Linked DNA regions of Homo sapiens. The protein of the gene in region 3 purifies or fractionates together with the protein of the main gene of each other region. This does not show direct contact. Each region holds a gene or a part of one and is shown on either strand. Other genes may lie near its edges.

Region 1 (2,487 bases), on a different chromosome or scaffold from region 3:
AAAAAAAAAAAAATGCCAAGTACAGTGGCTCACGCCTGTAACCCCAGCACTTTGGGAGGCCAAAGCAGGCGGATCCCTTGAGTCCATAAGTTCGACACCAGCCTGCGCAACGTGGCGAAACCCCATCTATACAAAAAGCACAAAAAATTATTTGGGTGTGTTGGTGAGCACCTGTTGTCCCAAGTACTTGGGAGGCTGAGGTGGGAGGATTGCCTGAGCCCAACAACTTGCTGCAGTGTGCTTATGCCACTGCACCCCAGCCTGGGCAACAAAGAGGCCCTAAAAACCACCAGGGGTTTCCCTTCCAGCAGCTAAAACCTGAGAATCATGGATGCAGTGGAGAGCATGAGCGCTTTCCCAGCCCTGTGGGATCCCTTTGCTTAGCCATACACGGGCCGATCTGACACCCAAAACCAAAGGCATTGAGCGAGTGGGAGTGCCACCCGCTGCCGTCCCAGCCCTTTCCCAGGGAAAGGCCACCCCCTTCCAGCTGCTGCTTGTGATCTGGGGCTGAGTTCTGGCTGCTGCAAAAACAACATCCCAACGCGAGGGCTGGGGCCGCCAGGTCCATCACAAGGTGGGAAACATGCCCATAAGAGGAAAACAGCCCTGACTTTAAATATATATTCTCCAATTTAAAACTTTTAACTAAAAAGTAAACTTTAATGTCGAAAGTGCAAACTTGGGGAAGGCAGAAAACATCACACACAAGGCTGTCACTTCACACTTGGAAGGTTGCACAGCGGCCGGGCAGAGGCGCTCCTCACTTGCCAGACGGGGTGGCGGCCAGGCAGAGGTGCTCCTCACTTTCCACACGGTGTGGGGGCCGGGCAGAGGTGCTTCTCAGTTCCCAGATGGTGCTGGGCTGTCGGACTCCATTGCTGGATGTGTGACTTGGGTTTAAGCTTCTCCCTTCTGCTCTCATCTGGAAATGCTGACAGCCTGGGCATTTCCTCCTTTGGCACTGGAGACTGAAGCCTGGCAAGGCCCTGCCCTCAGCAGGAACTCCCCCTGGGCCCCACTCTGTGACCTTGAGCCCAAGACAGGATTTTTCCTTTACCTTCTTCCAGCCACTTTGGGCCTCCCGGCTCTCTCAGAGCCCTGTTAGGTAGGTGACAACTCTGTTCCCACTGTTTTTTTTTTCTTCGTGTATTTTTAGTAGAGATGCAGTTTCACCATGTTGGCCAGGCTGGTTCGAACTCCTGACCTCAGGTGATCCACTCGCCTCAGCTGCCCAAAGTGCTGGCATTACAGGTGTGAGCCACCGCGCCCGGCCCCCGGTTCCCACCTTCTTAAGTGTATGTGTTGTCATCATGTTTCACCCCAACCAAACCTTGGGTGGGCAGCCTCTGTAGGGGACCACTCACAGCTGGCCTGTAGTCACGGTCCCCTGCAGAGCCCTGTCCCGATGCGTCGTCCCTGCCCGTGGCCTGCTCTGCCTGATGTGCACTGTACGCTCGGCTCTGCTGACTCCCGGGGGCCTCCGTCACACACTGAGCCAGCCTCATCAGCTGTCTCGGTATTTGGTGTTCAGGGACAGGGATCCAGCCCTTCCTAAGGTCCACCTGGGCTGAGACTCAGAATGGACGTTCAAAACAAAGAGATGGAGCTGTGAGTGACACCGGGCCCCACGGGCCGTCTGTCAACCAGGCCTTGGCCCTAGTCCATCGGGCACTCACCCCCTGCAAGATGTGGACCCACTAGTGCCCAACGTGTGAACAAGTAGCTGGAGGCCTCACCCCACACTGCTGGCATGGCCTGCCTCTCTCCTACCCAGGTGTAGCAGCTCCTGGTGCCAGTTGCCCCAGAGCGTGGCCAGGCCCCGGGTGTCTCTCCATCACAGCTGCGGCTCTGGCTTCTTCCGGGAAGTGAGGTGGGGTCGCTCCCCGTGCAGCTGCTGCTGCCGCTGCTTCAACGCTCTGTAGGCCTGCACGGCCCGCTCTCTCTCCTCCTCCACAATCCGCTGGCGGGCCAGGGAGGCGGTCAGAGGCTGGGACACACCACCGGGGCTCAGAAGCATCCGCAGCATCTGCGATCTCCTGCCAGGCTGAGGGAGAGAGGGGAGGGTGAGGCACAGGCTGGGAAAGGAGGGGATGCAACAGAAAGCCTCACAGCTTCAACAGCTCTCCCGCCAGCGAGAACACTGCACTCTCAGGCCACACACCAGACAGCGCACACGTTGGCTGAGGGTTTTTTTTTTTCTTGACACAGGATCTCGCTATGTTGTCCAGGCTGGTATCAACTCCTGGGCTCAAGCAATCCGCCTGCCTTGGCCTCCCAATGTGCTGGGATTACAGGTGTGACCCACCGTGTCCAGCCTGTCCAAGGCTTCTGTTCCCTGGCAGCACTGGGGGACAAACTCAAGTTGTCCCCGTGCCCCACTTACCTGGTCCTTGCTTACGCTCCTCTGGGGCCTGGCAGTCAGCTCTGGGGGCTGCAGGACAACCTCACCAAACTTCACCGTGTCTGGAGGAGCAGAATACAACT
Region 2 (3,655 bases), on a different chromosome or scaffold from region 3:
CTACTTTCATTTCCCTCATCAACTTGGTTAGTAAAAACAATAACCACAAAAAAAACAAAACAAACAAACAAAAAAAGAACCAAAAAAAACTAATGAAATTACGAGAAGACAAATCTTCCATTGAGAGACACTCAGATTTAAACATTAATGAAAGTAGTACCTTTTAAAATTTGTGGAATATACCAAAAGTGGTAGTCTGAAAGAGTTTTATGGCTATACCTGCTCATATTAGAAAAAATATATATTGAGCAAATCAATAAATACAGAATAAACTCAAAGGAAGCAGAAGAAAATAATAAAGATAAAAGGAGATATAAATGAATTAGAAAACAAAGATTCAACAGGATCAAAGAAGAAAGTACTCAGAAAAGACTAAGAGAATAGATATCTTGGTAAAAACTGATTTAAAAAAGAGAAAAAGCCAAAATAAAATAATATTAGGAACGAAAAGTGGACATTACTGTAGTCTCACTCATGAACACAGATATAATTAATTCTAAGCAAAGAATTAATAAATCCAATTTGGTTATGATGTTTAATGCAGTAAGAGAAAAGCCACATAATCACCTCAATATTTGCAAAGAAAACATCTAATAACATTCTACATTCATTCATGACAAACAAAACAAAACAAAATCATAAGAATAAGTAAAATTTACTTAACCCTTAACTCATAATAATCTATCTCTAGTGACACAAATATTAATGTTGACTCATTGGAAGTATTCTTTTGAAAATCAGGAACGTGGCAAAGATGGCACTGTTGATTTTTCTATTTATTTGACATTAGGCTAGAAGTTCTAGAAGGCACAAAAATGGGAGAAAAATGGGTCAAAATAAGAAAACTGTCATTTGCAGAAATGGTTATCTAAACAGAAAAATGAAAACGATATCCCAACAAATTAGAAATGAATTTAGGTAGGCTACTGGTTAGAACATCACTATTCAAAAATCCATTGCATTTTTATAAATTGGCTAACAAAACAATTTTCAAAGACATGCAGTTTACACCAACAAAAACTGTAAGATATCCAGGAATAGCTCTAGCAAGATTTATGTGTCAACTTCCATGAAGAGAATTACGAAATACATGAAATACATTTCACTATTTAAAGGAGACCTAAGTAAATATATATTATATACATACATACGTATCCCCAAATTGATCTGATTTAGTGCCATTTATAATTTATATGGAGGAGCAAAGGCCTAGGAAAAGCCAAAACACATCTGAAGAGAGGGGATTTAGGGGCAGGAGTGAAAGAAGCATTTTGCCCTTATAGATATGAAGCCTTATTATGAAGCTAAATAATTAACTAATGATGCAGTGACAAACTGACGAAGCAAATAGCCCAGAAAAAGACCAAGCATATATAGATATTTGATATATATCATGGCATTACAATTCATTGTGGGGAAAGGCTGCACTACTCCAAAAATATAACTACTGGTTATATATAACCAGTACTGGATAAACTGGTTATATATAAATGAACTGTTAAGAAGTAGAACACAGAATTGTAAGAGTACATTAAAACTAATTCAAAATATATATATGCAAAAGGACAGGTTGGGGAGACAGGAAGGAAAGTAACTGGTTTCCATTCTCACACCAAACAGAAAACAATTCCTGACAATCAAGCAAATAAATACGAGAGGCAACTCTTTAATTATTTTAGAAGGAAAGAAGAACTTATGATCACAGGAAAGAGAAAAGTTTCTTAAATATTACATAAAAAGCTTTAAGTGCTAATTTTTCAAAAACTCAACTACATCAAGAACTTCTGGTCCTGGTCCTCAAAAGACACCATAGAAAATAAAAAGAGAATTCATGAATTGGAAGATTTCTTTAATATGTATGAAGAATTGGTATCCAAATTATATAGAGAAGTTCCACAAATGCGTAAAATATACTACATGATAGAAAACTGGGCAAAAGACATGAACTGGCTTATCTCTAAAGAAAACAACTTATATTAAATGATGCTCAACATTAGAAAACAAGGAAATACAAATTCAAACCACAATGAGACAGCCTTTTATCATTAGTCTGAACATACCATGAGTTGGTTAGAATGTGGATGAGCAGGAACACTACTCTTGTACCACAAAAGTATAAAATGATACAACCACTACTTTGAAAAATATTTTGGTACAATTATGTAAAGTTAAACATTTACACATTCCATGACTCAAAATTATCCTACTGTAGGTAAACATTCTAGGGAAACCTTTATGTACACACACCCTTGATATGCCTGTTACCCCCAAATTTATCTCAAGACCTCTTTCCTGAATTCCAAGCTCACATCCCAACTACCTGCTTGACATCTCTTCTAAAAACTCTTGAGTCATCTCAAACATAATATATGCAAAACTGAACTCTTGATTTCCCCTTAAATCTCCTTCACTCAGTCTTCCACATCTAGTCAATGACCATTTCATCCTTCTAATTTGCTCAGTCTAAAACCTTAATACCATCTCTGAATCCTCTATTTATCTCATATTCTGCATCCAATTTGTCAGGAAATTGAAGCAGCTCTGATTTCAAAATATACCCAGGGGAAAAAATATTTAGAATCAGATCAATTCTCACCACTTTCATTGTAACTACCCTGGCCCAGGTCATGATGAAAGCCCATCATTTCTTTCCTGGATTTGTTTAGTAGCTTCCTTTCTCTACTTACCTCTCCAGCTACATTCTCAGTAAAGCAGCCAACTACTTCTAAAAATTAAGTCTGATCACATCATTTTCCTATTCTTTTTTTTTTTTTTTTTTTTTTGAGACGGAGTCTCGCTCTGTCGCCCATGCTGGAGTGCAGTGGCGCGATCTCGGCTCACTGCAAGCTCCGCCTCCCGGGTTCACGCCATTCTCCTGCTTCAGCCTCCCGAGTAGCTGGGACTACAGGTGCCCGCCACCACACCTGGCTAATTTTTTTGTATTTTTAGTAGAGATGGGGTTTCACCACGTTAGCCAGGATGGTCTCAATCTCCTAACTTCGTGATCCACCCGTCTCGGCCTCCCAAAGTGCTGGGATTACAGGCGTGAGCTACTGTGCCCGGCCACGTCATTCTTCTATTCTAACCCACCCAGTGGCTCTTCATTTCACTAAGTATAAAACCAAAGTCCTCATACCGGCCAACAAAGTCACTGATCTGGTCTTTCTTCTTCATCATACTTTCCTAGGACCTCTTCTACAATTCTCTCCCTTGCTTGATTTCAGTCACAATGGCCTCCTTGTTATTCTTAAAAAGCATATTCGATACACTCCTGCCTTGGAGCTTGTGCACTGGGTGTTCTCTCATTCTGGGGCTCTTTTTGCCCAAAGATGGCTAATTTCCTCACATCCTTCAAGTCTTTGCTAAAAGGTCAATTTCTCAATAAAGCCTACCCTGACTTTCCTATATAAAATCACTACCCAGTAGACAAATGGGCAAGAGACACAATCAATCAATCAAGGGGAAAAAAATATGAAAAGATGTTCAACCTCATTCAAAATGAGAACTGCAAATTAAAACTACAGTGATATACAATTTCTCACTTATCAAACTGGAAAAAATGATTTACAATGAGTGTTAAGTTGAGGAGTAACATTCAAGTTATCTCCTCCCCAAATACTTACTAATTATCATACAAAGGGAAAAACAGTAAATT
Region 3 (3,655 bases):
TGCATGAAGCGGCGGCCGCACTCGGGGCACGGAAAGGGCTTCTCCCCCGTGTGGCTGCGCCCGTGGCTGCGCAGCTCGGGTGCCGTCTTGTAGGCCTTGGGGCATAGCGGACACGCATAGGGCCTAGGCTTGGCCGCGGAGCCTGACACCTTCTCCCCACTGGCTTCCTCTGCCTTAGCTTCTGTCTCTGGCTTTGGCTTCACCTCGGCCACCTCTTCAGAGCAGTCTGCCGGCCCATGTGTGGCAGCGTGGCGCGCTGCCCTGGGCGCGTTTGGAAATGTCTTGGTACAGGACAGGCACTTGTAGCGGCGGCCCGAGCGCTTGTAGCCGGGGGCTGGGGACCGGGCCTCTGCAGCCTCCACTTCCATGGCCTTGGTGAACGGGGTTTCTCTGCAAGAGAAGCAAAGTTAGACCAAAGCCACATACCTTCGCCACTCCTGAAAGCCTCAGAGAGAACCCTATCTCATCTGCATTTCTCACCTCGGAACCCACACATCCTTCCTGCCCAGCATTCCTGGCTCTGACATCCTGCGTTCGTTTCCTCCCTGATCTGCTCATTGAAGAAAGGAGTTGGACCAAGTGTCCGCAGAGCCACTAAGAAAGGAGGCTGAGGGTCACAAAAGATTCACCTACACGTCCCCCCCCGCCCCCAACGGGCTTTTCCAAACACTGTGGCATTCCCAGAGGCCCAGGTTCCATCTGTCTCACCATCTTCCTTCTTCAGCTCAGTGTCCAAGAACTATGCCAGGATAAAGAGTGTACCCAGACGTGGGCCTGGCCTGAAGGTCTCCAAGCGCCCAGAAAAGACAGACCTGGGACCAGAAAAGGGCTGAGCCAATGGGCTAAATCTGGTAGCTGGCACTGTCTGGAAGTGACAGGTCCCCAGCATTTGTGTTTTCTTTCCTCCTCTGGATGGTTAGTCCTCAGAGACAGCAACTGTTCACACAGAATTCTGGCCTTGCACAGCTGTACGGGCCTCCGCCCCAGACTGGAATCTGTCCACTCTCTGCTCTGGAATCTTGTTGGCCTGTTCCCACAACTCTGGTAATGGAGAATCACTCAAGGCAGCCTGAGCCATTGCTAGCAGCTGGAAGCCTCTTTCTGAGTCATAACTGATGTATCTGATCTAACATGGCCTCCTGGGATACCAGCTCTAGCTGAGATCCCTACTTTCTGGTCCAGAACCCAGACGCCCTCCACCCAGCTGCTCCTGGGGATCATGGTTGGGAGGAAACAGGATTAATGGCTGTATTAGTCTTAACACCAGCTCATCCTCCCTGGGGGATGAAGGGAAGAGGATTATGGCAGATCCACTTAAGGAGTGCTCAGCAGCTGCTGCTGGGGGAAGGGGTCTGAGGAGTGGGGGCTGCAGGGAGCCAGGTGTGCCCAGAGGCTAGGGGGCCTACGTTCTACTTGCAGCCCTGTGGATTACTATGAGACCTCAGTGAAATGAGTGTTGTTTATAAGACTATTTCCGCCCGGCTGGGCGTGGTGGCTCACGCCTGTAATCCCAGCACTTTGGGAGGCCGAGGGGGGCGGATCACGAGGTCAGGAGACCGAGACCATCCTGGCTAACACAGTGAAACCCCGTCTCTACTGAAAATACAAAAAAATTAGCCGGGCGTGGTGGCGGGCGCCTGTAGTCCCAGCTACTCGGGAGGCTGAGGCAGGAGAATGGTGTGAACCTGGGAGGCGGAGCTTGCAGTGAGCCAAGATCGTGCCACCGCACTCCAGCCTGGGCGACAGAGCAAGACTCCGTCTCAAAAAAAAAAAAATAAAAAGACTATTTCCTCATCTGGACACGTTAGGGGTTGGTGGCTTCTAAGTTATGACACTGGGGTTCAGGAGGAGGAAACTGAGCTGAGCCACGAGGGTGCTAGGGGAAATACAGAGACTCAGGGCCCCTTATGCCAGGAAAGGGCGGGAGAAGCAGCTTACCTGGTTGACCCAGGGAGGACACAGGAGCCCCTGACGCGTGGCAAGGGCCACATCCTTAAAGTCAGCACCCTTCTGCCTGAAATCCCGGCCTCAGGCCTGCACGCTGCCCTCCCTCCCCAACCCCATGCAGCCGGTCTTCTCCCAAAAGTAATGAATGATGTTTCCTGTTCCCTGCTCAAGAACTTTCCATGGCTTCCACCACACCATGCAAATCCCCAGGTCCTTCCTGCTTGTTCCAAATCTGACAAGTCCTTCACTGGAGCCCCACTTCCACCAGGAGGATCCTCAAGCATCTCCCCTTTGGGTTTGGCCCCAATCCCACAAAACTCCATCTTATTCTCACTTGGTTATTTCACTTTTCCCACTAAATCCTAGGGCTTAGCCAGGTGTGGTGGCATGCGCCTTAAGTCCCAGCTACGTGGGAGGCTGAGGCGGGAGGATCCTGTGAACCCAGGGGTTCGAGGCTGCAGGGAACTATGATCGTACCACTGCGCTCCAGCCTGGGCAACCTGGTGAGACCCCATCTCTACTAAAAATAAAAATTAGCAGATGTGGTGGCATGTGCCTGTAGTACTGCCTACTTGAGAGGCTGGGGTGGGAGGACTGCTTGAGCCCAGGAGTTCAAGGCTGTACCACTGCACTCCAGCCTGGGAGACAGGGCAAGACACTGTCTCAATCAATCAATCAATCAATAATCAATCCTGGGGCTTGAAGATAAGTTAAAGGGACTGAATTCTAACCTTTCTGATGACTTGAATTCTTCCTACAGTTTCCAAGGGATCCCTCCCTATTTCTGGATGAGGTACTCACTACCTCTTCCAGACGGTTTCTGGAGAGTCTGCCTGATAATGTTCCTCCTTAATAAAAATGATAGCTTGGGCCAGGTTCAGTGGCTCACACTAGCACTTTGGGAGACCAAGGCGGGTGGATCGCTTGAGCCCAGGAGTTCAAGACAAGGCGGGTGGATCCCTTGAGCCCAGGAGTTCAAGACCAGCCTGGGCGATATAGCAAAATCCCATTTCTACAAAAAATACAAAAATTAGCCAGGCATGGTGGAGCATGCCTGTACTCCCAGCTACTCCAGAAGGCTGAGGTAGGAGAAATGCTTGAGCCTAAGGAGACTGAGGTTGCAGTAAGCCAAGATGGTGCCACTGCACTCCAGCCTGGCAACAGAGTGAGACCCCATCTCAAAAATAAATAAATAAATAAATGATAAAAAAGATAGTTCACATTTACTGAGCACTCGCCAAATACCAGGCAGTATCCTAAACTCCTTATGTGTATTAGCTCAGTTACCCTTCATGGCAACCCCATGAGGAAAGTTCTATTATTCCATTTTCACAGATAAGGGAACCAAGGTCCAGAGAAATGGTTCAGTATTTTGTTAAGTGCCCAGTCCCTGAAGCCAAACTGTCTGGCTTCAGATTTTGCCTCCATCACTTCCCAGCTGATGTGACCGTGTGTAATGTACTGCATGTCTTAGAACCTCAGTTTTCTAATCTGAAAAATGGAGATAATGACAGTACTTACCTGACAGAGTTGGGTGAGGAATGAATGAGTCAAAAATAATTACTGTCCTCAATTATCAAAGCGTCTTCTTAGAGCCAGACACATTGCTGGGTGTGCTGGTTTATTTAATTTAATGTCTTATACCTTTCTGAGATAGGGATTCTTGTCCCTACTTTACAGAGGAATAAATCGAGGTTCCAAGAGTTAA

What was found.
Region 1: the proteins of ZNF668 (region 3) and CCDC137 purify together in Homo sapiens (affinity purification with mass spectrometry; one large-scale study listed by BioGRID and IntAct). This does not show direct contact.
Region 2: the proteins of ZNF668 (region 3) and RPF1 purify together in Homo sapiens (affinity purification with mass spectrometry; one large-scale study listed by BioGRID and IntAct). This does not show direct contact.

Annotation. Positions count from the first base shown.
Region 1 is NC_000017.11:81,672,055-81,674,541, reverse strand, and holds the end of CCDC137 (coiled-coil domain-containing protein 137), read right to left. Parts: intron 2,467-2,487; coding exon 2,387-2,466; intron 2,048-2,386; coding exon 1,838-2,047; 3' UTR 643-1,837; downstream 1-642.
Region 2 is NC_000001.11:84,485,716-84,489,370, reverse strand, and holds part of RPF1 (ribosome production factor 1), read right to left. Parts: intron 1-3,655.
Region 3 is NC_000016.10:31,064,092-31,067,746, forward strand, and holds part of ZNF668 (zinc finger protein 668), read right to left. Parts: intron 939-3,655; exon of another isoform or gene 709-938; intron 595-708; exon of another isoform or gene 528-594; coding exon of another isoform or gene 481-527; intron 391-480; coding exon of another isoform or gene 369-390; coding exon 1-368. UniProt on the Homo sapiens protein: May be involved in transcriptional regulation. May play a role in DNA repair process.